4 linked regions of the Homo sapiens genome follow. The protein of the gene in region 4 interacts with the protein of the main gene of each other region in a pairwise test. Each region holds a gene or a part of one and is shown on either strand. Other genes may lie near its edges.

The links.
Region 1: the proteins of ARID4B (region 4) and SPANXB1 interact in binary tests that used the Homo sapiens proteins (3 or more experiments, as listed by UniProt).
Region 2: the proteins of ARID4B (region 4) and AARSD1 interact in binary tests that used the Homo sapiens proteins (3 or more experiments, as listed by UniProt).
Region 3: the proteins of ARID4B (region 4) and PRR23B interact in binary tests that used the Homo sapiens proteins (3 or more experiments, as listed by UniProt).

What each region holds. Positions count from the first base shown.
Region 1 is NC_000023.11:140,997,666-141,004,225, reverse strand, and holds SPANXB1 (sperm protein associated with the nucleus on the X chromosome B1), read right to left. Parts: upstream 1,633-6,560; 5' UTR 1,533-1,632; coding exon 1,443-1,532; intron 796-1,442; coding exon 574-795; 3' UTR 520-573; downstream 1-519.
Region 2 is NC_000017.11:42,949,989-42,954,456, forward strand, and holds the end of AARSD1 (alanyl-tRNA editing protein Aarsd1), read right to left. Parts: intron 3,791-4,468; coding exon 3,736-3,790; intron 1,907-3,735; coding exon 1,812-1,906; intron 741-1,811; coding exon 605-740; 3' UTR 538-604; downstream 1-537. Other genes in the region: PTGES3L-AARSD1 protein, read right to left, coding at 605-740, 1,812-1,906, 3,736-3,790. UniProt on the Homo sapiens protein: Functions in trans to edit the amino acid moiety from incorrectly charged tRNA(Ala).
Region 3 is NC_000003.12:139,018,495-139,024,781, forward strand, and holds PRR23B (proline-rich protein 23B), read right to left. Parts: upstream 2,433-6,287; 5' UTR 2,168-2,432; coding exon 1,370-2,167; 3' UTR 537-1,369; downstream 1-536.
Region 4 is NC_000001.11:235,178,152-235,185,190, forward strand, and holds part of ARID4B (AT-rich interactive domain-containing protein 4B), read right to left. Parts: intron 4,643-7,039; coding exon 3,434-4,642; intron 3,034-3,433; coding exon of another isoform or gene 2,942-3,033; exon of another isoform or gene 2,920-2,941; intron 1-2,919. UniProt on the Homo sapiens protein: Acts as a transcriptional repressor. May function in the assembly and/or enzymatic activity of the Sin3A corepressor complex or in mediating interactions between the complex and other regulatory complexes.

The sequences.
Region 1 (6,560 bases), on a different chromosome or scaffold from region 4:
TTGATTAAACACTGCTGAGGTTATTAAAACAGTAACATAAATATTTAAGATGCAGTGTACATTTTGTTTTAAAATTTGGCTTTTCAATCATTTCATTACATGCAATGCTTTCCTGCCGTTTACTTACTCCTACATCTACTATCTTCTTTTGTATTGTGCTTTGTGTTTTACAGAACATTTACGCTTTATAAAGCATATATTTCTAACCTAGGAAAATATCAAATGGAAAGGGGATGGGAATACCTTTGATATGTCCATTCAGCAGAACTATGTGCTGCCGGGTACAGTTGCGTGAACATATACACATCTCCACTTCCTGTGAGATAAAATTTTAAGAAGAAAATTTTCTTTAGGAATCAGTCCTCCCCCAGGCCTTATTTACAATGTCTGGCTTACTGTCAACCTGTGGGTCTGTCCACCAACCCTACAGGACCTCATATCCCTCCCTTCTCAAATGCCTACCTCTTCCCTTCCCTTCACCCCCCACCATCAGAAAACAGGCAGAGATATACACAGCCATCAGCTTCTCAAACTTTATTTTCATTGCCGAAGTTTGAGGGATGTAGCTTCTTGCTACTTTTTAGGTCTTTCAGTCGTTATTTCTATGAATTCCTCCTCCTCCATTTGGTCGGGGTTGATTCTGTTCTCTCGGGCGTGGTCATTCAGCAGTTCCTCTGGAGATGTTCTTTTCACGTTCCTCCTGTAGCGAACCACTAGTATGGTCGAGGACTCAGATGTTTTCATTTTTTTAGGAGCAGGTTGCGGGTCTGAGTCCCCAGTTGGGGTCTCCGGCATCTGTTAAGAAAACAGGGAGAGGCCAGGAGGACATTATTTTGGGTGAACAGGATAGAGACTGGATAGCAAGGGGGCTTCATGAGAAGAAGGAATGCAGGTTGAGGAAGGGGTTTGATCCAGAGAAGAAGAAGGTTGAAGCACAGAGTAGGGATCTATGGGGAAGAAGAAGAGGAGCGTGGGTAGGGTCACCTGTGAGTCCAAACTGCACCATTTTGTCAGTTCTTTGCTATTTTGCAGACCTTGGTCAAAGTGAAACATCCCATGGGGGTTCAGGCCGTGAGAAACATCCTGCCTAACCACCTGTCCGCAAGGCGGACAAAGGCCCAACTGAAGAAACATCCCTATCATATCTTGCTTGGCAGCGTTCTAAGGAACACCACAATGATATTCCACCAGAAAAAGGGCCAAACCACCTGATCATAAGAACATCTTATCAATATCCTGCCGGGCAGCAAGCCATACTGCCCAGGCCCCTCCCACCCCTACCTACAAGCACCCCAGGTTGTAAGCGGCGGTGGGCTCTGGCATTAAGCGGGCCCCCCACTTCCACAATGGTCTGCAATATTCCTGTGTTGTTGTTTGAGCCGCCCCCGCTCTGTGTGTCTTTCTTTCACCCTCGCCTTCACTTCAGAACCTAACAATCTTACCGTCTTGTTGGCCTCATTGGCCTCGTTGGCCTCGTTGGATTCACAGGGGACGCTCCTCTTCAGCCTGCGGACACTGGATTGTTGGCCCATTGTATATATTGGTTCTTCGATGTCTACAGTAGGTTTTTGGAGCTTTTGAATCTTCGCAGTGGCCCAGAGCTCTTGCCCTCCCTATGCATACCCTCCTGGTGACAAGGCAAAGCCACACCCTTGAGCTTTGTTTGATCATACAGGCAGTGTCCCAGCCAATGGCAGCCCTAGGGTGGCTTCGACGTCACAAAGCCCCACTGCTGACCACTCCCTGGGCTTGCGGGCGAGGGGTGACAGGGGTGTAGAGCAAACCAAATGCTGTTGTTGTTTCAGCATCCCCTGAAGATGCATCCCAAACCGATCTGCCGCCGCTCCTCATTTCTCCATGTTTAATGTTCACGGTTCACATGGAAGTCAGAGGATGATTCCTTCAAGCCCTTCCCCACAGCCATTCCTATTAAGTGATTCATTCTTTTGTCTTCCAGCCCTCACCATGACTTAGTATTTTCGATGTCTCACCTCAAATCCCCCACGCTAGTGTGGCTACATTTATTTATTGGCGGAGATGTGAATTATCCCATTTCCCTCCTACAGTTCCTTCACATGCACCTCGAAGACCATTTACTTTTGGGCTACTGCCAGGCAAATTTCAACCCATGTTCTTTTACCCAATGTCCATGTAGTTCTTTTAAGTTTCCTATCTCCAATCTGAAATAATGGCCTTCAGTCTGTCAAAACTTTAGTGAATAAACATTCTTTACCGTGTATCCTAGTCTTGTTTCAAATCAGGGGTGTATATTTTTTTCTTTTTTTCAAATGGAGTTTCACTGTTGTTGCCCAGGCTGGAGTGCAGTGGCATGATCTCAGCTCACTGCAACCTCTGCCTCCTGGGTTTAAGTGATTCTCTGGCTCAGCCTCCTGAGTAGCTGGGATTACAGGCCTGTGCCACCACGCCCGGCTAATTTTTGTATTTTTAGGAGAGACGGGGTCTCACCATCTTGGCCAAGCTGGTCTTGAACTCCTGACCTCGTGATCCACCTGCCTTGGCCTCCAAAGTGCTGGGATTACAGGCGTGAGCCACCACACCCAGCCAGGACGGCCATTATTAAAACCACCATTGACAAGTAAATTTTGGTTACTTCTGTAGCATACAAGAATTTAACATAAAAGTTATAATTAATAACATACACAAGTTATTTCAGAAGTATAAGAGTTTCCCATAATTTTGGAGCACATATCAATGACATTTCTATAAATACAGCCCAAAGAAAGTCAAACACCATTTTATATTTGATGATGCTTCTTGTATGATTTTTATACCAAATAAGACCAATATGTCTCTTTTGGACTTCAGAGGACTCATATCAAAAAATTAATGAGGAATGAAGTTAGAATTTGACTTTGGAAAGTTCGTCAAAGATAAAAAGTTTAAAATGCTTGATATCACGAAATAGGGTCATGGGTCATTGTAAAATAAGTCATTCATTTAACCAAAGCAGTAACTCAAATGTTTCAAAAAAAAAAAAAGGTGAAAATCTTTATTCTTTGAGAGAGGAGGCTTAATATCCCAAACAATAAGCCCTAATTAAAAACAGGATGCGGCAAATTAAGTTTGTTTTTTTGAAATTGTATAATAAAAGTTTAATCATCTTGAGTATAAAATATAATTTCTATAAACCTTGTAACCTTCATCATTTTGCATGAAGGAGTGAGTTAATGCTCCAAGAAAGCCTTGTTAAACTGACACAGCAACCTAGATACTGGTTTTGCTTTAGTGTGCCTTTGATATTAATGGTTAATTCCTAGAGAAACTGAGCTACTTTTCTCTTAATATCAGCCCTTACAATCTCACATGCCCACCTCTTCCACGATAGTCCTTGGGCCTTGAGGAGTTGAATAGTTTTAATTTCTGGCCCTGCATCTCATGAACGCAGTTTACTTTGATTAGCATCTTCTACTGGGCCTGAAAATGAGGCTGTAATTGCTGTCAGTGTTTAAGATATAGCAGAACTTGGTGTCCTTTTTAGACCCAGAAGTCAAAGCCCTATAACTCAATGGCACAAGGACTTTAAAAGCACATACAGAAAGTTACACAGATGGAAGAAAACACTTTTTTAGACCTTGAAGAAAAAATTTTTGGCCTGTCATAGTGGCTCATGCCTGTAATCCTAGCACTTTGGGAGGCTGAAGCAGGTGGATCACTTGAGGTCAGAAGTTCGAGACCAGCCTGGCCAACACGGTGAAACCCTGTCTCTACTACAAATACAAAAATTAGCCGGGCGTGGTGGCAGGAGAATTGCTTGAACCTGGAAGGGGGAGGTTGCAGTGAGCCAAGATTGTGCCACTGCACTCTCAGCCTGGCTGACAGAGTGAGACCCCACCTCAAGAAAAGAAAAAAGAAATAGAAAAAAAAACATTTTTAGCATGAGGCCACAACAAACAGAACACAAGAGAAAAAAAGAAGAAACTTATATGAGCTGAAAATGAGTTGAAAGAGAGAGTTATTATTTTCACCTTTTAAAAGAGGAGAGTAAACCGAAAATGGTGAGATGTGATAAAAGTTAAACTTTGGGTTTAAAGAATTAAAATCTTTTAATTTATTAAGAGTAAATCAACTCCTTAAGAAAATTTTATTGTTCTGATGAATTTTTTTAGTGTTTTTTTTAATATCATAAGCTAAATCTGGAAAGACTATTATAAATAATTTCCCTTTAATTATAGACAACTTTATACAAATCATTTATGACAGCTTGGACTTTCTGTTTTATCCCTTCCTCTTTCTTTATTCCTTTGAGATACAGTCTTCCTCCGTCGCCCAGGCTAGAGTCGTGCAGTGGCGCCATCTCGGCTCCCTGCAACCTCTGCCTCCCATGTACAAGCAATTCTCCTGCCTCAGCCTCCGGAGTAGCTGGGACTACAGGCACGTGCCACCACACCTGGCTAATTTTTGTATTTTTAGTAGAGACAGGGATTTGCCACGTTGGCCAGGCTGGTCTCGACCTCCTGACCTCAGGTGATCCATCCACCTCGGCCTCCCAAAATGCTGGAATTAACAAGCATGAGCCACCATGCCTAGGCTTCCTTTTTCTTAAATAACCAGTTATTTTATTTTAGAACAAAAATTTACCATACAAGATTCTTGCTCAGATAAAATTATTTTCCTTTTAACTTTTTGTGCCAAAAATGCCTGTTCATAACTTCCTTCACATTGTTTTTATTCACTGATTACCTAATTTCATAAATAACTTTTAGATAAGCTTCGAATTAGACAAAAAGTATTTTCCTTTAAGATCACATTTCTTTTTTACAGAAAAATGTTTTCCTATAATTAAAAAAATTGGAAATGACCCAGACGTGTAATAAATATCTACTATTTAGCTTAATATAACTTTGGATTTTAAATTATATGACAAGATATTCTACAAGAACTTATTCTGTTACATTTGTGTAATTAATTAATTTTCTAATAGTTTACCCAGATTACTTATGAAAACTGTAATAGTTACCATTTAAAGTTATGTCCTTGTTAACCATTTTTATAACCTGTGAATTTCAGGTTGTCCTGAGTAAGAACATTAAGGTTAGATAAAGGGTCTTTTTTTGTTTATTTGTTTGTTTGTTTTTGTTTTTTTGGCAATAACTCAGGATTTAGCTATTTTCATTAACCAAACAATATTAAATTCCTTACTTACTAAATTTTACATAAACAAAGATAATTCTTATTTGAGCTGCATTCATAGCTTTAGAACCCTTATGCCAAATGTTGACATCTAGCAGAGATAAATAATGTATGTTGAGAATTCCAAAGCCATTTCTAATTCAATTTCACTAAAATTTTTAAAACCAGCTTGTTTATTGAAGATTTGCTTAAGTCACATGAACTTGAAAAAGCATTTGGCTTAAAGTCTATTTTTCTGAAAAGCATTAGATTTAAGTGCCTTTGTTAAGCCAATTAATTAGAGCTCTTTTCTACATTTTTAGTAGTGAAATGTCATATCCATGACACATAAATACATAGATGTATTAGACATGTAGATAGAAGTAGATCTTATAAATTCCTAAGGCCTTTATTTTTTCCTTGTATTTTAGATTTACAATTTCTTCATAACCTATTTTATTGCCCTAGGCAATTGTCAGCTAGATAGCCCTAAATGTGCATATTAAAGGAACCCTTAGGTAAAAAAAATCAGATAGTGAAATTTGCTTCTCAAAGCACAGAGAGAAAGAGTCTGGTGATGTTAGAAGGAGATTGAAGATGGATGCCAAATCAAACACAAAATTGTAGAAATATATTATAGGATTGTATAAGGAGACCAGTTGTATTTAGATAGGGACTACCTGTCTTTTAACTGGATCTCTGAGCTCTGGGCAGAGCCCACACTGAATCCTAGTTCTCCAAAAAGGGAGAATTACTATGAGGCTACACCAAGTGATGCTTTTACAGTGTCCTTTTTTTTTTTTTTAACAAAGACATTTCTAAGTGTTCAAGCTACTTTCTTCCTTAAAAATCCAAGAATAAACTAATAACAGTTTTAGTCAAAAAATCAAGTAACACAATACAAAAGCAAGCAGCTTAAGATCTGAGATGAACTTGTGTGTTTACACTCTTGGGAAAAATAGAGGTTTCTCCCCAAAAGGGAGTGTGGCATCTTCTCCATTTTCTTTAAGGAATGCAGGCAATTATAAACTATTTTACGTCCCTCATGCAACAGAGGGTAGCAAAATAAAGGAGAGACAGCAGAAGTAGATGAAGAAAACAGAATGTCATCGTCTGAGAAGAAAAAAAAACTTTTGCTCAAAAAAAGACAAGGTCCTAGGAGAGAAGATGTAGAAAGTAGTAAAGTTTTTCTTCAAAATTCATCTTGGTTTAAAAATAAAATAATAGACACTATAAATAATAGCTCCTTACTCTAAAGCCTCCTCTCAACTACTAGTTCTTACACTTGAGCCCAGTTAGTTGCTTTGGCTTACTCAGGCATGTCTGGACAGGCCCAGGCAAGTCTTAGCTCATAGCTTATGCCCCTTCCTTTTTTGAAATGTTAATTGCTTCCTTAAACCTTTAGTAAGCAACTTCTTTTTCTTCTTTGT
Region 2 (4,468 bases), on a different chromosome or scaffold from region 4:
TTTGAACCTGGGAGGTAGAGGTTGCAGTGAGCCAAGATCGCACCACCGCACTCCAGCCTGGTGACAGAGCGAGACTCCATCTCAAACAAAAACAAAAAACAAAAACAAAAAAATCAGCCAGGCATGGTGGCACACACCTGTAATCCTGGCTACTCTGGAGGCTGAGGCAGGAAAATCCCTTCAACCCGGGAGGCAGAGGTTGCAGTGAGCTGAGATCACACCACTATATCCAGCCTGGGCAACAAAGCAAGAGTCCATCTCAGGGGGTGGGGCGGTAGGGGCGGGAAAAAGCCATGTGCCTTTGTGGATTATAACAAAATTATGGGAGCAGTGGACTCAGCTGATCAGATGTTCATTTCTTATCCAACTGAGTGCAAAAGCACAAGGTTTGGTATAAATTAATCCACCACCTTCTAAACATTACAGTGCATGAACTAAATTAGAAAATTATCTATTTATAAACGGAAAGTAACCACACAAGCACAATGGAGTATACAGTACGAATTAGTCATATAAATACAAGTGGTAGCGCAACCATTCTGAGTCAATCTATTTTATTGACCAAAAGATTCCTGTGGAAACAGGAGGTGAGTGCCCTAAGCCCTCACTCCTTAGCACTCTGCGTGCTGATGTAGTCCTGGAGAAGCGCCTGCGCCTCCATCCGCCGGCTCATCTTGGTGGCCTTGCCCTGAAAACGGCCTTTCTTCCCTGCTCCTTTGCCTTCCAGGACCTCAGCCACCCTGGGGAACAGAGGTATAGTCAGGGAGACTTTGAGGGAAAAGTCACAAAAAAAAACAAGGGCAGCTCTGAGTCTTTTTCCAGGGACTGGGAGAGGGATAAGAAGAGTAGATGACTTCTAGGAATCTTTCTTGAAAACACTTGCACATAGGCTGGGCATGGTGGCTCACACCTGTAATCCCAGCACTTTGGGAGGCCAAAGTGGGTGGATCACCTGAGGTCAGGACTTCAAGACCAGCCTGACCAATAGGATGAAACCCCGTCTCTACTAAAAATAAAAAAATCAGCCGGGCATGGTGGTATGCGCCATAATCCCAGCTACTCAGGAAGCTGAGACAGGAGAATTGCTTGAACCCGGGAGGCAGAGGTTGCAGTGAGCCGAGATGGTGCCATTGCACTCCAGCCTGGGCAACAAGAGTGAAACTTTGTCTCAAAAAAACACTTGCACATATGCACAAAGATATATGTACCATCATCACATAAGAGTGAATAACTGGAAACAACATCAGTGTCTATGAATTGGGCTAGATAAATTATGTTAATCTCCAGAGAGCAGGGTGAGCACCTGTAATCCCAGCACTTTGGGAGGGCAAGGCAGGTGGATCACTTGAGGTCAGGAGTTCGAGACCAGCCTGGCCAACATGGTGAAACCCTATCTGTACTAAAAATACAAAAAATTGGACGGGTATGGTTATGTGCACCTGTAATCCCAGCTACTTGAGTGGCTGAGGCAGGAAAATTGCTTAAACCTGGGAGGTGGTGGCTGCAGTGAGCTGAGTAGCCTGGGCTCTCCAGGCTGGGCAACAGACTAAGACTCCATCTCAAAAAACAAAAACAAACACATTTCATAAAAACAAAAACAAAAACATACATGTGAGATGTGGAGCCAAAAGACCTTCAACTGTCAAACTGGAAATGACAGTAGTAATAATTATCTCTGCTCAGCCCACCTCACATGCCCATGATGTGAATTAAATGAGATCGCAGATGTGATGGTCCTTTGACTCAGTAAAGGAATGTATTTGTAGGATACAGGCTCTACTACATGTGCAAGAGAGTCCACAAAGAATTACCTGGGCCCCAGGGTCTCCACAGACGCAGGTGGCCCTGCCAGTAAGAAGAGTCCACCACCTTTCTCATCGCCCACAGTTAAGAACAGGAGGGTCTCCTAGGAGGTAAGACAAGGAGATAAGCTCTGATACTGAAGGATGTAGAGTCAACCCCCCAAATCCTGCACTCTCTTCAATCTTAAGAATAGATTATTTCCCCCTAAACCACCAAGTGACGCTCCTGATGAATGATGATACAGCCCCTCCACACTGGCCCACGAGGGCCAAGAAACTTTTTGAGAGCAACTATGGGAACTTAGGTGAAACATTAAGAAGGCAGCAGAAGACTGCTGATCCTGGCTAAGCAGAAAATGCCTTTCATGGTTTCACTCTTGCAAACTTTTCCCCACCACACATCCTTTCCCTGCCACTGCCTAAACCACCAGGTTTCCCTCTGCCTGGCCGCCTCTGCCCCTTGTCTGTCTGATGACCTCTAAGCAGTCTTCAAGGGCCCCTCCCCTGAAACCTCCCTATCCTTCAGGTAATGTGCTCCTCCACCTCTAGCATTCATCACTCTATCATTCTGAATTATAAATGTCGACATACATATTTGTCTCCCAGACTAGAATATGAGCTTCTTGAGAATCAGTTCTGTCTATACAGAAGAATTATGAAAAGAGAGATACACAACGCTTTACCCACAGTAGGCATTCCAAAGAAGGGTTCTGGAGTAAATACAAAAGAGATAGTGGGGCATGGTGGCTCATGCTTGCAGTCCCAACTACTCAGGAGGCTGACGTGGGAGGACTGCTTGAGCCCAGGAGTTCAAGACTGCAGTGAGCCATAATCACGCCACTGTACTCCAGCCTGGGTGACAGAGCAAGACTCTGTCTCTGAAAAAAACAAACAAACAAACAAACAAACAAAAGACCTGGAAATCTCTAGGCTAGAGACCATCAGGAGTGGGAAGAGTAAGTAAAGCCAGAGGAAGAGGAAAATGGACGGGGATGGCTTTCAAAGGGGCTTGCCCACTCCTGTATTTACTTTTTTTTTTTTTTTTTGGAGACAGTCTGTGTTGCCCAGGCTGGAGTGCAGTGGCGCAATCTCGGCTCACTGCAACCTCAGCCTCCAGGGTTCAAGCAATTCTCCTGCCTCAACCTCCCAAGTAGCTGGGTCTACAGGCACCTGCCACCACACCCAGCAAATTTTTGTCTTCTGTTTTGAGACAGAATCTCACTCTGTAGCCCATGCTAGAGTGCTGTGGCACAATCTCAGCTCACTGCAACCTCTGCCTACCAGGCTCAAGAGATTCTCATGCCTCAGCCTCCCGAGTAGCTGGGATTACAGGCGCATGCCACCACGCCTAGCTAATTTTTTGTATTTTAGTAGAGATAGGGTTTTACCATGTTGCCCAGGGTGGTCTCGAACTCCTGAGCTGAGGCAATCCACCCGCCTCAGCCTCCCAAAGTGCTGGAATTACAGGCGTGAGCCACCATGCCTGGCCTGATTTTTCTATTTTTAGTAGAGATGGGGTTTCACCATGTTGGCTAGGCTGGTCTCCTGATCTTAAGTGATCCACCCACCTTGGCCTCCCAAAGTGCTGGGATTACATGCGTGAGCCACCGCGACCAGCCCACTGATATATTTCTAATATTGGATCCCCAGCACACATAAACCTGAATGGCTTTGAGGAGCTAGAGCTCTGATGAAAGGAGCTCAGAAGCTAATAAACATCACAGCCCCAGAGAGAGCAATAACATAGATCTAGCTCAACACCTAAAACAGAGCTTGGCATATAGCTAGTACTAAGAAAACAGTATTGAATGAATGGCTATTTCCTCCTCCTCATGTGTTCATGTGGAGGGACTTTGGCTAAACTAGCGCCCCTCACTTATGTCTCCCTAGGTCTCTATCCAGGCCGGGGTAGAGAATCTCATGCTCCTCTTACCTCTGACCCAATCTCATTGGCAATGATATTCATGAACTCTGAATCACCCTCCTTCCTACAACAAAGGACACAGACATGAGACCCAGGTTGGAGTGGTGGCTGTGAAACTGCAGGAAGCCTGGCCCCTCCTTCTGAGGCTGGCCTTGCTGCCTATGTACACATAAAGTCCCATATCCCTTAGCCAAGAGAGAGTACTGGCTGAAAGCCAGCAAGCTGCCCTTCTCAGCCTCTGCAGTTTGTAATCAACCTCCAGGTTTGTTTCCATCTCCCTTAAATAGGATTCACCAGGATAAGCAGAAATCTGTTAGAGAGTAAAGGAGGTAGGGGACAGTCCTAAAGAAAGATACAGGCTGGACACAGTGGCTCACACCTGTAATCTCAGCACTTTGGGAGGCCAAGGTGGGCAGATTGCTTGAGGTCAGGAGTTCAAAACCAGCCTGGCCAACATGGGGAAACCCCAGCTCTACCAAAAATACAAAAGTTAGCCTGGTGTGGTGGCACATGCCTGTGATCCCCCAGCTACTCGGGAGGCTGAAGCACGAGAACCGCTTGGACCCAGGAGGCACAGGTTACACTGAGCCGAGATCATGCCACTGCACTCCAGACACACTAAGACTCCATCTCAAAAAAAACACAAAAAACAAAAGATACAGAGTTACAGTAAATATGTTAATATCAAACCCAGGAGGCCTGGTATGTAACATATTTCTTTTTTTTTTTATATTTTTGAGAT
Region 3 (6,287 bases), on a different chromosome or scaffold from region 4:
AGCCTGGGATGTTGAAGCTTCAGTGAGCCGTGATTGCACCACTGCACTCCAGCTTGGGCGACAGAGTGAACCCTGTCTTAAAGTCTTTCTCTCTCTACACACACACGCACACACACACACACACACACACACACACGAACAGCCAAATTACATATAAAAGGACTAACAACTTGATTGACAGAAGACATCCTGCAACAACAAAAAATGGCAAAACAACGGGCTAATATCTTTAAAGTACTGTAGTTAAATATCATTTTAAAATTAAGAATGAAGGTGTAATTAAAACATTTACAGTCAATTCTAAGAAAGTTTATCACACAAAAACATGCTCAGACTTACAGAAGCAAGATAGTTTATCACACGTAAGACACAGTGGAAAGAAATATTAAAGGATATTCTTCACAAAAAGAAAACTGAAGCTACAGTGAAGGAGTGGAATGTAAGAATAAAAATGTAGGAAATAATTGGTAAGGCATAGTGGTAGATCTGAATAGTTATTGATGTTTTTAAATAAAATAAAACCAGCTTGTTGACATCAGCTTTACCAGTAATCTTTTATCTCCTATATAAAAATATGAGGCAACTACAGTAATAAACTAACATTTTAAAAGTTAGAAGTTTGGTTTACATGAGAAAAAACTCAGGGTAGATTTTAAAAGGTATAAAATAATGTGGAATAGCAGGAATGCAAACACTTTCCATTGGGTGAAATCACCAGATTAACAAATTAAAAAAAAATACATAACACAATGCATGCTGAAAACATCTGATAAAATTCAACACAAATTTTCATTTAGAATTAGAAGACTAGAAGAAAACTTCAGCAGGATAAGGGGTTCCTAGGAAGAAGCAACATACAGTCTTGTATAGTAAGCATACTATTTGGCAGTTTCCTTGGAGAGCAGTTGGAAAAACCCCAAGAAAAGCCATGGCTAAGTCTTCCAAAATTCATGGGAAAAAAATGCAAGGTAACTAACAACGTAAGAGATCTGGTGATTTCTTGGTTTGGGGAGAAACGGGAGTGGCAGTATGATGCTGGAGAAAGACTGGAATTTGAGAGAAACAACTGATGCAAAACGAGGGAGAATGAAGGGATCTGAATATGACCTTGTAAAGAAGCCCAGAAATCTGGACACATTTTCTGGTATCCTTGCGCAGATTTTCTATTTAAAGATGAGGTCTAGAATATACCTTTTCTTGCTGACGTCTTCATCTCCTACTATCGGTAGTGTGCAGCGAAAAAGCAATTGTCCGAACACGCGGTGCCCAATTTCCAGGTTGTTGGATACTCAATGTGAGAGATTCCCGCAATCCTAGAGGGCCTCCAGCAGAGCGGCCAGGATTGTTGTGTGTACGTGGGGGTGGGGGTCTATGCCTGGAACAGGCGTCTCCGGGCCTTGCACGGAGGGCGTTCCGGGAGCGGCGAGCGCGCGTGGGGACCTGGACTCCCCACGCACGGAGAGGGAGGTAGAGGTTGGAGAGGTGAGCTGGGGACAGGCTCCAGAAGGCGGAATTCCAGGTCAAAGATGGGGCGTGGAGAACGTCTCTCTGAACTGGGGTTGGGGGCCAGAGCACAGGGTTCTGGGATGGGGCCCTCCCGGTAGGGGATGAACATACTTCTAGAGGAGGGGTAGAGCCCAGCGGCTGAGCCGGTTGGGGAGTCCATCCGGAGCTCCGGGAACTCGGGGTCCGCGTCCTCCTCGTAGGCCTCTTCCTGGGCGGCGATCTCTGGGACAGATGCGCAGAATTCCAGCTCGACGACGACGTCCTCCCTGACAGCGCCCAGGAAAACGTCCACTTCCAGCCCGGCAGACGAGTCGTGCTGCGCTCCTGAGCGTTCGTCGACGGAGCTCAGGAGGACCTCTGGGATCAGGATGAGGGTGTGTCCACCGAGAGACACTCGCAGGATCGACGTTGGTGCGGGCTCCAGCACCAGGTCGACGTCGTCCAGGGGCACACGCAGGGCACAGCCCGCGGCCAGGACCACTATGGAGGTGAGCGCGTCCACGGCCGGGTCCCCCGCCGGGTCTTCCAGGCTGGGTGCCGCGCGGGGTTCGGGGCCCGCGGGCTCCTCCAATCGGAGGCGCTTGGCAGGGCCGGGTCCTCCTGGCTGCTGTCCCCACCAGGGAGCAGGGAAGGCGCTGGGGCTGCGGGGCCGGCTGACCATCGCCTCGACGGCGCTGTGGACGGCGCTCCTGGGCCTAGCAGCGGACGTGGGGAGCGCGGCGGTGAAGTCCTCTTTGAAGTAACAGATGTCGGTGGTAGGGGAGGCTGGTTGGGACGAGCGGGGCGCAGGACCGCGCGACGCGGGGCGAGTCCTCGGAGCTCCCGGGGCGCCTCCTGGGGGACCGTAGTCTGGGCTGCTGGTGGTGCCTCGCCGGCCACCGGGCTCAGCTTAGCTCGTTGGACCCTTGGGCCTTCCTGATGCAGACCCGGATGCGCACTGCAAAGCCAATTATGTTGTAAATGACGGCAGCGGAACCGAAGTCGCAAAATGTCACGCAATGCTCCGCCCCCTGGAGGACCCGCTCTAGAGGCGGAGGTATCCGTGCTGTCCAGTATCCGTGGCTATAATTGGTCGGACACGCTGGGGAAATACTCTTACAGGCCTCTAGGGGGCAGAATGATCAGTATAACTTATTCAGAAAAAATGATAACAACTGTAATAGAATTTCAAAGATGGCTCGCCTTTAGAACTCATGTTTTCTTGTGATTTCAGGGATTCTAGAGAAAAGACCACTCAGATCTCTCCGACCCATCCAAATGCTACATACAATTCCTTTAATGCTACTAAATTATTTCATTTTAGGAGTATTCAGAAAATACAGATTTCTACTTGGGAAAATTGATTTTAAAATTCTGAGTGAAGCTGGGAGTGGTGGCTCACGCTTGTAATCCCAGCACTTTGGGAGGCTGAGGAAGGCTGATCGCTTGAGCCCAGGAGTTCAAGACCACTCTGGGCAACATGGTGAGACTCGGTCCCTATGAAAAATTTAAAAATTCAAAAATTAGCCTGGCGTGGTGGTGCGTACCTGTGGTCCCAGCTATTTGGGAGGCTGAGATGGCAAGATCGATGGAGCCCGGGAGGTCAAAGCTGGAGTGAACCGTGGTGGTGCCACTGCACTCCAGCCTGGGCAACAGAGTGAGACCCTGTCTAAAAAAAAAAAAAAAAAAAGTGAAACATTTGTGAATAGTTTCATCCTGAAAGTTAAAAAGTTATAAAATTATTAATCATATTAAAATTTAAAACAATATTAATAAAATTATTTTTTTTTCTTTTTTTTTTTTTTTTTGAGACAGAGTCTCGCTCTGTCGCCCAGGCTGGAGTGCAGTGGCGCGATCTCGGCTCACTGCAAGCTCCACCTCCTGAGTTCACGCCATTCTCCTGCCTCAGCCTCCCGAATAGCTGGGACTACAGGCGCCCACCACCGCGCCCGGCTAATTTTTTTTGTATTTTTAGTAGAGACGGGGTTTCACCGTGTTAGCCAGGATGGTCTCGATCTCCTGACCGCGTGATCTGCCCGCCTCAGCCTCCCAAAGTGCTGGGATTACAGGCGTGAGCTACCGCGCCTGGCCGTATAAAATTAATTTTTAAATTGAACACTTATATTTCCATGATTCTTGAATTTTTTTTTTTTTTTTGACAGAGTCTGACTCTGTCTCCCAGGCTGGAGTGCAGTGGTGCAATCTCAGCTCACTGCAGTCTTGGCCTCCCAGGCTCTGGTGATCCTCCCACCTCAGCCTCCGGAGTAGCTGGGACTACAGGCCTGTGCCACCATACTGGCTATTTTTTTTTGTATTTTTAGTAGAGGCAGGGTTTTGCCATGTTGCCTAGGCTGGTCTTGAACTCTTGGGCTCAAGCGATCCTCCCTCATCGGCCTCTCAAAGTGCTGGGATTACAGGTGTGAGTCACTGCATCTGACCTGAGCTTTTTTTTTTGAGACGGAGTCTCACTCTGTCGCCTAGGTTTGAGTTAAGTGGCACGATCTTGGCTCACTGCAACTTCCGCCTCCCGGGTTCAAGCCATTATCCTGCCTCAGCCTCCCGAGTAGCTGGCAGTACAGGCACTTGCCACCACGCCTGGCTAATTTTTGTATTTTTAGTAGAGACGAGGTTTCATCATGTTGGCCAGTGTAGTGTCAAACTCCTGACCTCAAGTGATCCGCCTGCCTCGGCCTCCTAAAGTGCTGGGTGCTGCGGTTACACCGTGCCCAGCCCTGAGTTTTTTTTTTTTTTTTTTTTGAGACAAAGTCTTGCTCTTGTCCCCCAGGCTGGAGTGCAATGGCGCGATCTCAGCTCACTGCAACCTCCGCCTCCCGGGTTCAAGTGATTTTCCTGCCTCAGCCTCCCAAGTAGCTGGGATTACAGGGACTTACCACCATGCCCGTCTAATTTTTGTATTTTTAATAGAGAGGGGGTTTCACCTTGTTGGCCAGGCTGGTTTCGAACTCCTGACCTCAGGTGATCCACCCGCCTCGGCCTCCCAAAGTGCTGGGATTACAGGCGTGAGCCACCATGCCCTGCCAGTCCTGAGTATTTTAAAAACGATCTTCTTCATTCTTCACAACACCTGAGGCTCAGTGGTAAAGCAAATTTTTCTTAAAAAAATAATTAAAAAAATTTGTGTGGGTATATAGTAGAGGTATATATTTATAGGGTACATAAGATGTTTTGATACAGAAATGCAGTGTGAATAAGCACATTATAGAAAATGGGGTATCCATCTCCTCAAGCATTTATCCTTTGAGTTACAAACACACCAGTTACACTCTTTAAGTTATCAAATAGTAGGTCTTATTCATTCTTTGTGTTTTTTTTTTGTATGCATTAACCATCCTCACTTCCCTGGTAAAGCAAATTTTTCAAAATCAAATACCCAGGTTGTGTTGGATGTGGGAATCAAATGCACAGATATAGCTGGCTTTAAATCAAAGACTCTTTCCTGACACTTTTATGAGGAAAGTAGGAGTAGATCACTAATTGGTACTGTGTATGCCTTTCAAATTAACAGGTAATACCCCTTTCCCCATTCTTTTTTCAAAATGGCTTTCCCTGCTTACATTCACGTGAGCAGAGTATGTTTCCATTTCACTAAATCTTTGCAAGCATTTCTTATTGCCACATTCTTAAATCTTTTTCAAGCTATTGTAGTAAAATGCTATTTCATTTTGCATTTCTGATTACCAATAAAGTGAACCATTTTTCCTTTTTTTAAATTATACTTTAAGTTCTAGGGTACATGTGCACAACGTGCAGGTTTGTTACATATGTATACATGCGCCATGTTGGTGTGCTTCACCTATTAACTCGTCATTTACATTAGGTATATCTCCTAATGCTATCCCTCCCCTCTCCTCCCAGCCCTTGACGAGCTCCGGTGTGTGATGTTCCCCTTTCTGTGTCCAAGTGTTCTCATTGTTCAATTCCCACCTATGAGTGAGAACATGTGGTGTTTGGTTTTTCTTTCTTGCGATAGTTTGCTGAAAATGATGGTTTCCAGCTTCATCCATGTCCCTACAAAGGACATGAACTCATCCTTTTTTATGGCTAAAGTGAATCATTTTTTCATATGCTTATTTACTATTCTTGTATCTTCTTATTTGAAATGCTCCTATCTTCTATTTTTTTACTTTTAAAAAACTCAGGTTCACAATATTGTATACCAGTTATTCATCAGATATATGTGTAGCAAATATCTCTGTCATTCTCCCACAGTTTTTGAAGACATTAGCACCTGATTCACTATTATTCCCAGCCGATCTACTTCTGATGTAATTTGTGGTAATTTTAATGTTTTCATAGATTTTTCCCCCTGAAGTCCTAGCCTCTTAGTTCACAATTTTGTTCTGCCTCCTACCTCACTGACTCATACCCTTGACTTTGTTGTTACCCCAAGTTGTAATCCCTTTATAATCACAATTTCAACATTTTATTCTCACAGCACCACCTTCTAACTTTCTAATTCAGTTTTAAAAAATATCCAAATCTATCCATTTTTCATTCTCTCTGGAAAAATCCTTTTATCCTACCATCTTTTAATGGAAACTGATATCATCAGGTTCTCACTTCCCTCTTTACTGGGAACTTAAATTCCACGGACAGCCTTGATAATCATTGTCATATTTATATCTTCAACTTTCTTTCCTGTCTACTGCTTTGCTGGTTAAATCTATCTGCCTACTCAGTGCCCTTACTTGTATGGCTGAATGTGTCTGGAGAAAAACACTCAATCTCTTTGAATAGTCTCACTTTATAATCATGATCACCAACCTCCAGTGGGTTCCTAA
Region 4 (7,039 bases):
TTAAAAAAATCAGATATAAACTGAAAATAGTCCTTAATATAGTACTGGGAGTTTATAAGCCTAGTAATTAAAAGTATATGCTGAAAATAAAAACTGAAATTTGTTAAGATTCAATAAAACCAAAATATTAAGACTTAATCACAGGTTAAAATGTTAATGACATTATGTCTTATAATCATATTAATATAATTTTTAAATGATATAAATGAGGTAAATTTTAGCAGTAATTCATACTTGGTTCTTTTTTACCAATTTATGTCAAGAATAACTAAGCTCCCAGGGCACTGTTTGGTTAACATGCATACCATTTACAAATCCAACATAGTAGTTCTAAAAAACGTCTCATCTTCTTGGTGGGAAATTATTGCAAAACATTACAAATAAATGTCTCCCTTTTCTTCAAGGACTAGCCCAAGTCCTACATCTTCACTAAGATGTTCCAGGCTTCACTGATCAATCACTACTCTGAACTGTAGCATTTTTCTATACTACTCATTTGGTCCTTAACATCTGCTATATTTCTGTCTAATTCATATATGTTATCTCTCAGACTATATAAAGTAAGATTTTTTCTCCAGAGACTAATAAAGTACTATCTCCATTCAGTTCCAATGTCAGACACCAAATCAACCTTCTGTGTATAAAACCTAACTTCCTTGATCAAAAACAGGACAAGTAATTAACTGTCTGCAACTTCCTAGCTTTTTTTTAATGGGTCATATAATCTTACTTACAACTTTTCCTAATACCTTTTTAAATTTTTAATATTTCTTTTTTATTTTTTACACCAAGTATGTGACCCACCTAATGTCATTTTAATATCACAATTTAAGTGAAACATAAAGGAGACGTAGATATTGACCATACTGAAGCACAGAACCATAATTGTCAGGTTTCTCTCCAAGAGAGTTTAATTCTAAAGTGTTCAGATACTAAGAAATAAAAACCTTCAATGTAGAGTAAATTAAGAGGAAAAAACTACATCTAAATAGTAAAACTTAAATTTTAACTTGTGATATAGTGGGGAGTCTCCAATATTCATAGTAAGTAAATTTATTAAAATGTGGCCATGTGAAACAGGTGCTTAAGAACCTATTTCTGGCTGGGCGCGGTGGCTCATGCCTGTAATTCCAGCACTTTGGGAGGCCAAGGTAGGTGGATTACCTGAGGTCAGGAGTTCGTAGACCAGCCTGGCCAACATGGCGAAACCCCATCTCTACTAAACAAAATACAAAAATTAGCCGGGCGTTAATCCCAGATACTCAGCAGGCTGAGGCAGGAGAATCTCTTGAACCTGAGAGGTGGAGGTTGCAGTGAACCAAGATTGCACCACTGCACTCCAGCCTGGGCAACAAGAGCAAAACTCTATGTCTCAAAAAAAAAAAAAAAAAAAAAAAAAAAACCCAACAAAAAGAAAAACACCAATTATTTCTAAAGAGATATAAATTACCCTAAATTTAGGAGTAGCTTTCAAATTCCACAATTATTAACCTAGTCAAGATTAAGATTCAAAAGGGCAGTGTTGACTTAGTCTATTAGCAGAGAAGATATCCTCTTTTTTTTTGTTGTTAATTTTAATCTTTTGTAAGATATTACGAACATAATAAGGATACAACCTCTTAAAAACTACAACAATAGGCTAGGCACGGTGGCTCATGCCTGTAATCCTAGCACTTTGGGAGGCCAAGGCAGGCAGATCATGAGGTCAAGAGATAGAGACCATCCTGGCTAACATGGCGAAATGCCATCTCTACTAAAAATACAAAAAATTAGCTGGGCATGGTGGCACACGCCTGTAGTCCCAGCTACTCAGCAGGCTGAGGCAGGGGAATCACTTGAACCCAGGAGACGGAGGTTGCAGTGAGCCCAGATCACACCACTGCACTCCAGCCTGGGCAACAGAGCGAGACTCCATCTCAAAAAAAAAACCCCCAAGAAAACCTATAACAATAAAACCTGTTTTTTTCTTTCTTTTCTTGTTTTTTCTTTTTTTTTTTTTTTTTTTTTTGAGACAGGGTCTTGTTTTATCACCCAGGCTGGAGTGCAGTGGCGTGATCTTGGCTCACTGCAGCCTTTCCGGGATCAAGTGATTCTCCCTCATCAGCCCCCAAGGTAGCTGGGACTACAGGCATGCGCCACCACAGCTGGCTGACGTTTGTATTTTTGGTAGAGATGGGGTTTTGCCATGTTGTCCAGGCTGGTCTTGAACTCCTGGACTCAAGCGATCCACCGCCTTGACCTCCCAGACCTCCCAAATTGCTGGGATTACAGGTGTGAGTGACCACACCTGGCCAGTAAAATCTTACTGTTGAAAGCCTAATATTCTGAAATAAAGGATTCTTTCATTTTGAAGATTAGTCATGCCTGGATAGTTCAGTTGCATGAGATAGTATGGCACAGATAAAATCATAGTAGTTATACTTGTAAATGTGAAAAAAAGCAAAGAACATTTCAATTTAATTGCAAGTATTTTTTTAATTTATTTTAAAACAGAAATGTTTTAAGTCAAGATTCCTGAGAAAACATAGAATTAACTAATTTGATCTAGACCATATCTCTTTAAGCTTTGCTGAAAACCTAAAGCTAGCATTCTAAAATCTTTTACGGTATATAAAAAACATACTCCAGTGCTCTGTCTTTACGATGGAAAAGTGTGTTCCAAAGCCAGGTGTCAGCCTAGAGTATACTGATTTAAAGATACCTGAATGAAGTGGTTTATAAGAAAAATGATGACAGAAGTATGGCTATGGCACCATCGAAAGGCACTAATACTTTGGGAAGGTACCGATTTGAATTTCCACTTTTAACAATTTCACGGAAAATCAAAAAAGTATTACTGTAGGTTATTAACGTACACATTGGTCCTTCAATTTGGAAGCTATGCATCTAAGAAAGCATCAAATTCCTTTACAAACTCACACAAGTTAGTCAGGCTTGAAAATCAGTTTGACACGGTTGTCTGAGGAAAGCAGTGCCTGGACAGTTGGTTGCTCCAAACCCCTACATACAGTATTTGGTTAAGGGTGGAGGGGTCTGTCAATAAATCAAAATGTTCGTGAGAAACTGCACATTACAATTGCAAAAACAATGTTACAGAAATAGATTTAAGCTGCTCATGCCATATAGTCAACCACTGCATATAATGAATTCTCAAACAGGTTTGGATTTGGGCCTGGGTGCAATTTCTAGCATGTGTTCTGGTCCACAATAAAATGCCATGGATGGCTCAAGCAAAGCACATTAAAGCCTTCTCAAGCTTTTAAATGCATTCCACTATTCATTTTCAAATTACCTTTAAAATTTCCATTTTTACCATGTTCACACAAATATGACACTTAATCGCCTCAGGTTATAACAAGAGATACTGTGAAATCATTGAAACTTTAAGAGGGGAAACCCTAAAATAAGTCAACATACACATTTTCCTTCTCACCTTTTTCAGGATGTTCTGGTTCTGGCTGATTACTACTGCTTGAGCTCACACTGGCATCAAAACCTGCTGGCGAGCTATTCCCTTCAGACTGGAGGTCTTGGAGCTCCCCAGCAACACTATCCACCTCAATTGTGCTATCAGTTTCACTCTTGATACTTCGAACCTCTTCTTGGTTTGGAGCCAGTGGTTCTGATACTGTTACAGAAGACTGCTGCCGGCTGCCTTCTGTTACAGTGACTGATGAAGGCGATTCAGGTGTAGTAGGAGGGGTATTTAGCACTGAATTACTGCCACTACTTGGAAATTCTGCTTTTCTGTCATTGACCTCTACTGTTTTTTCTTCAATGGGTTTACTATCGACATTGACTGGAGGTGGTTTTTCTAGTTCTACACTGGGTGAACAACTCTCCTCTTCAGCCACAGTCTGCAGTGACTCCTCTGCCACCCCCTCCTCTGGGGCAGGATGCGGTGGGGAAGCTGCAGCCTCAGTATCAGAGTCTGAAAAAAGCTCTTTCAGCGTTTTTTTAGGCCACTGTCCCTGAATACTTGACCAGACATCTTTTCGATCTTTGGCCCTGCTGTTTTGAAGTCTTTCATCAGAGTTATTTAAAAGTTTAATCCTTTTTTCTGCCACTTCTGAAAATCCTGAATAGAAACCAGTTGTCCGTAGAGATTTTCTTTTTTCCTCCAAACCATTGTATTTCTTAGTTGGTGTCATCTTTGCTTTTGTTTCTTCTTCATCTTCATCTGAAGAGCTGTTGCTACTGTTTTCCATGCAAAGTGATTCTTTGTTCTTGGCCTTCTCTTCCTTTTTGCCAGGTGATCCAGTTTTTAGACACTCTTCTGTATTGCAATACCTTCTTTTACCACGTTTTATTTGTGGTTTTGAAGATTTATCTGTTGTGTCCTTCTTGACATCCTTTCTCTTTTTTGTGACTTCATCTTCTTCATAATCAGTATCTTCGGATAATACTTCTATATCTTTCCTTAATCTTTCTGGAGATTTTGACACTGGTTTGGATATTACCAAATCTGCATGAACTTTGTTTTCTTCTAGCAAAGATGAACTGTTCTGTTCCTCCTTTGAAATAAGATCATTTCTGTTGTTGGTCAAATGATCAATCTTAGATTCCTCTTTGCCATTATTATCCATGTCTTGAGCACCTCTCTCATCTTCCTGCTCACTGTCTTCAGCAGAACTTTCAGAAGCTAGAAAATAACAGAAAAAAAAATGATGAGTATGATAAGAACACTAGCAATGTCTTCTATGTGCCAGGGACTGTATATATTAGGTCCTGTGTATACAGCCACCCGAGGTTGCTGGCTTTTATCTCTATGTAACATGCAAAGAAACTGGGTTTCAAAGAGGCTAAGAGGCTCTTCCAATGATGGAAATGTTCTATTACGATCACGGTGATGGTTGTAACACTGTATACTTTTGTCAAAACCCATCACATTTTAAACATAAAAGTCATCACTTTTATGTAAACTGTACCTTAATAAAGCTGAAATAAAAAAGAAAAAAGCTTCTCCAAGTTTATATAAGTATAATATTTTTATCATAATATATCTGAGAAAATAGTGGAGTCAGGATATAATCCCAGATTGTGCTACCTCCAAGTTAATATTCTTCTTTTTTTTTTTTTGAGTCTCACTTTGTCATCCAAGCTAAAAGTGTAAGTGGCGTGATGTCGGCTCACAGCAAGCTCTGCCTCCTGGGTTCACGCCATTCTCCTGCCTCAGCCTCCTGAGCAGCTGGGACTACAGGCGCCCACCACCACGCCCGGCTAATTTTTTGTATTTTTAGTAGACACGGGGTTTCACTGTGTTAGCCAGGATGGTCTTGATCTCCTGACCTCGTGACCCGCCCTCCTCGGCCTCCCAAAGTGCTGGGATTACAGGCGTGAGCCACCACGCCTGGCCCCAAGTTTATACTCTTATGAAACTATAGCCTTCATTTTTCTTTTCATCAGAGACGGTCTCACTCTCTCATCCAAGCTGGAGTGCAGTGGCACAATCACAGTGCACTTCAGCCTCAAACTCCTAGGCTCAAGAGATCCTCCCACCTCAGATTCCTGAGTAGCTGGGATCACAGGAGCAAGCTACTGCACCTGGCCTCTCATTTTTCTTTCCTTTGTTTTGTTTTGTTTTATTTTCTTTCCCTCCCTGCCTCCCTTCCTTTCTCTTTCCTTTCTCTTTCTTTATTTCTCTCTCTCTCTCTATTTTTTTCTGAGACAGGGTCTTACTCTGTTCCCCAGGCACTATCATGGCTCACTGCAGCCTCAACCTCCTGGGCTCAAATGATCCTCCCACCTCAGCCACCCAAGTAGCTGGGACTACAGGTGTGCCACATCCAGTGAATTTTTGTATTTTTTGTAGAGACAGGGTCTCGTCATGTTGCCAAGGCTGGTCTTGAACTCCTGAGCTCTAGCAACCTGCCTACCTCAGCCTTCCAAAGTGCTGAGATTAAAGGCATGAGCCACCACACCTGGCCAGCTTCATTTTTCAATGTAATAATGAATATCCAATAATTTTGTAATCAATGATTTCCATGATGTTTTAAAGAATAGATATAATTAATTTTAGTTACTGATAACTTATGTAAAATTAATTATGGAACTTACTGCTTCAGTGTGTTCATTCTGGTAAATCATTTTATTGTTATTTTAAGATAACATTTCCTGAGAACTTACTACATGCTGGTTACTTTTGATACACTTTGAACAGACCATCTCATTCAATCCTCAGAACAATGCTACGAGATACATGTTATCAGCCCCACTTTATAGTTCAAGAGACTAGGGTCTTAAATAAATAAGAAAAACAAACAAACAAAAAGCAACACAACAAAACAAAGCAAAAAAAAAGGGACTGGGGTTTAGAGGTTAATCTACCCCCCAAGGTAGTTAAATCTAAGTCATTTAACTCCAGAACTTACAACCTTAACTATAGCTCTCTACTGAGAAATCCATGCATGTTCTTTAGCTAAATTCATTAAATGTAAAACATAACTGACATAACTAAGATTGTGAAACCATTTCACCTTTACAATGTGTGTCTGCATGGCCACATTTTTTAAATTATCAAAACAATACATATACATCATTAAAAACAAATCTAGACTCATAATGAAAAACCAAAAAGAGGATAAAAATCTGTTTTTCCACCTCCAAAGTGTTAACATCTGATAGTTATAGTCATCTCTTACTATTCATAATATACTATTTGTTTTATTTATTTTTTTGTGTGTGTGACGGAATCTCACTCTGTCACCCAGGCTGGAGTACAGTGGTGTGATCTCAGTTCACTGCAACCTCCTCTTCCTGGATTCAAGCAATTCTCCTGCCTCGGCCTCCCAAGCAGCTGGGACTACAGGCACATGCCACCATGCCCAGCTAATTTTTGTATTTTTAGTAGAGATGAAGTTTCATCATTTTAGACAGGCTGATCTCGAACTCTTGACCCCAAGTGATCTGCTCATCTCAGCCTCCCAAAGCACTGGGATTATAGGCATGAGCCAACGTCCCTGGCCTGCTGACTTATTTATAAAGTTTATCCTCTATGAGCAATGGGGATTCTTACTTATCAACACCCATATCTCCCCTC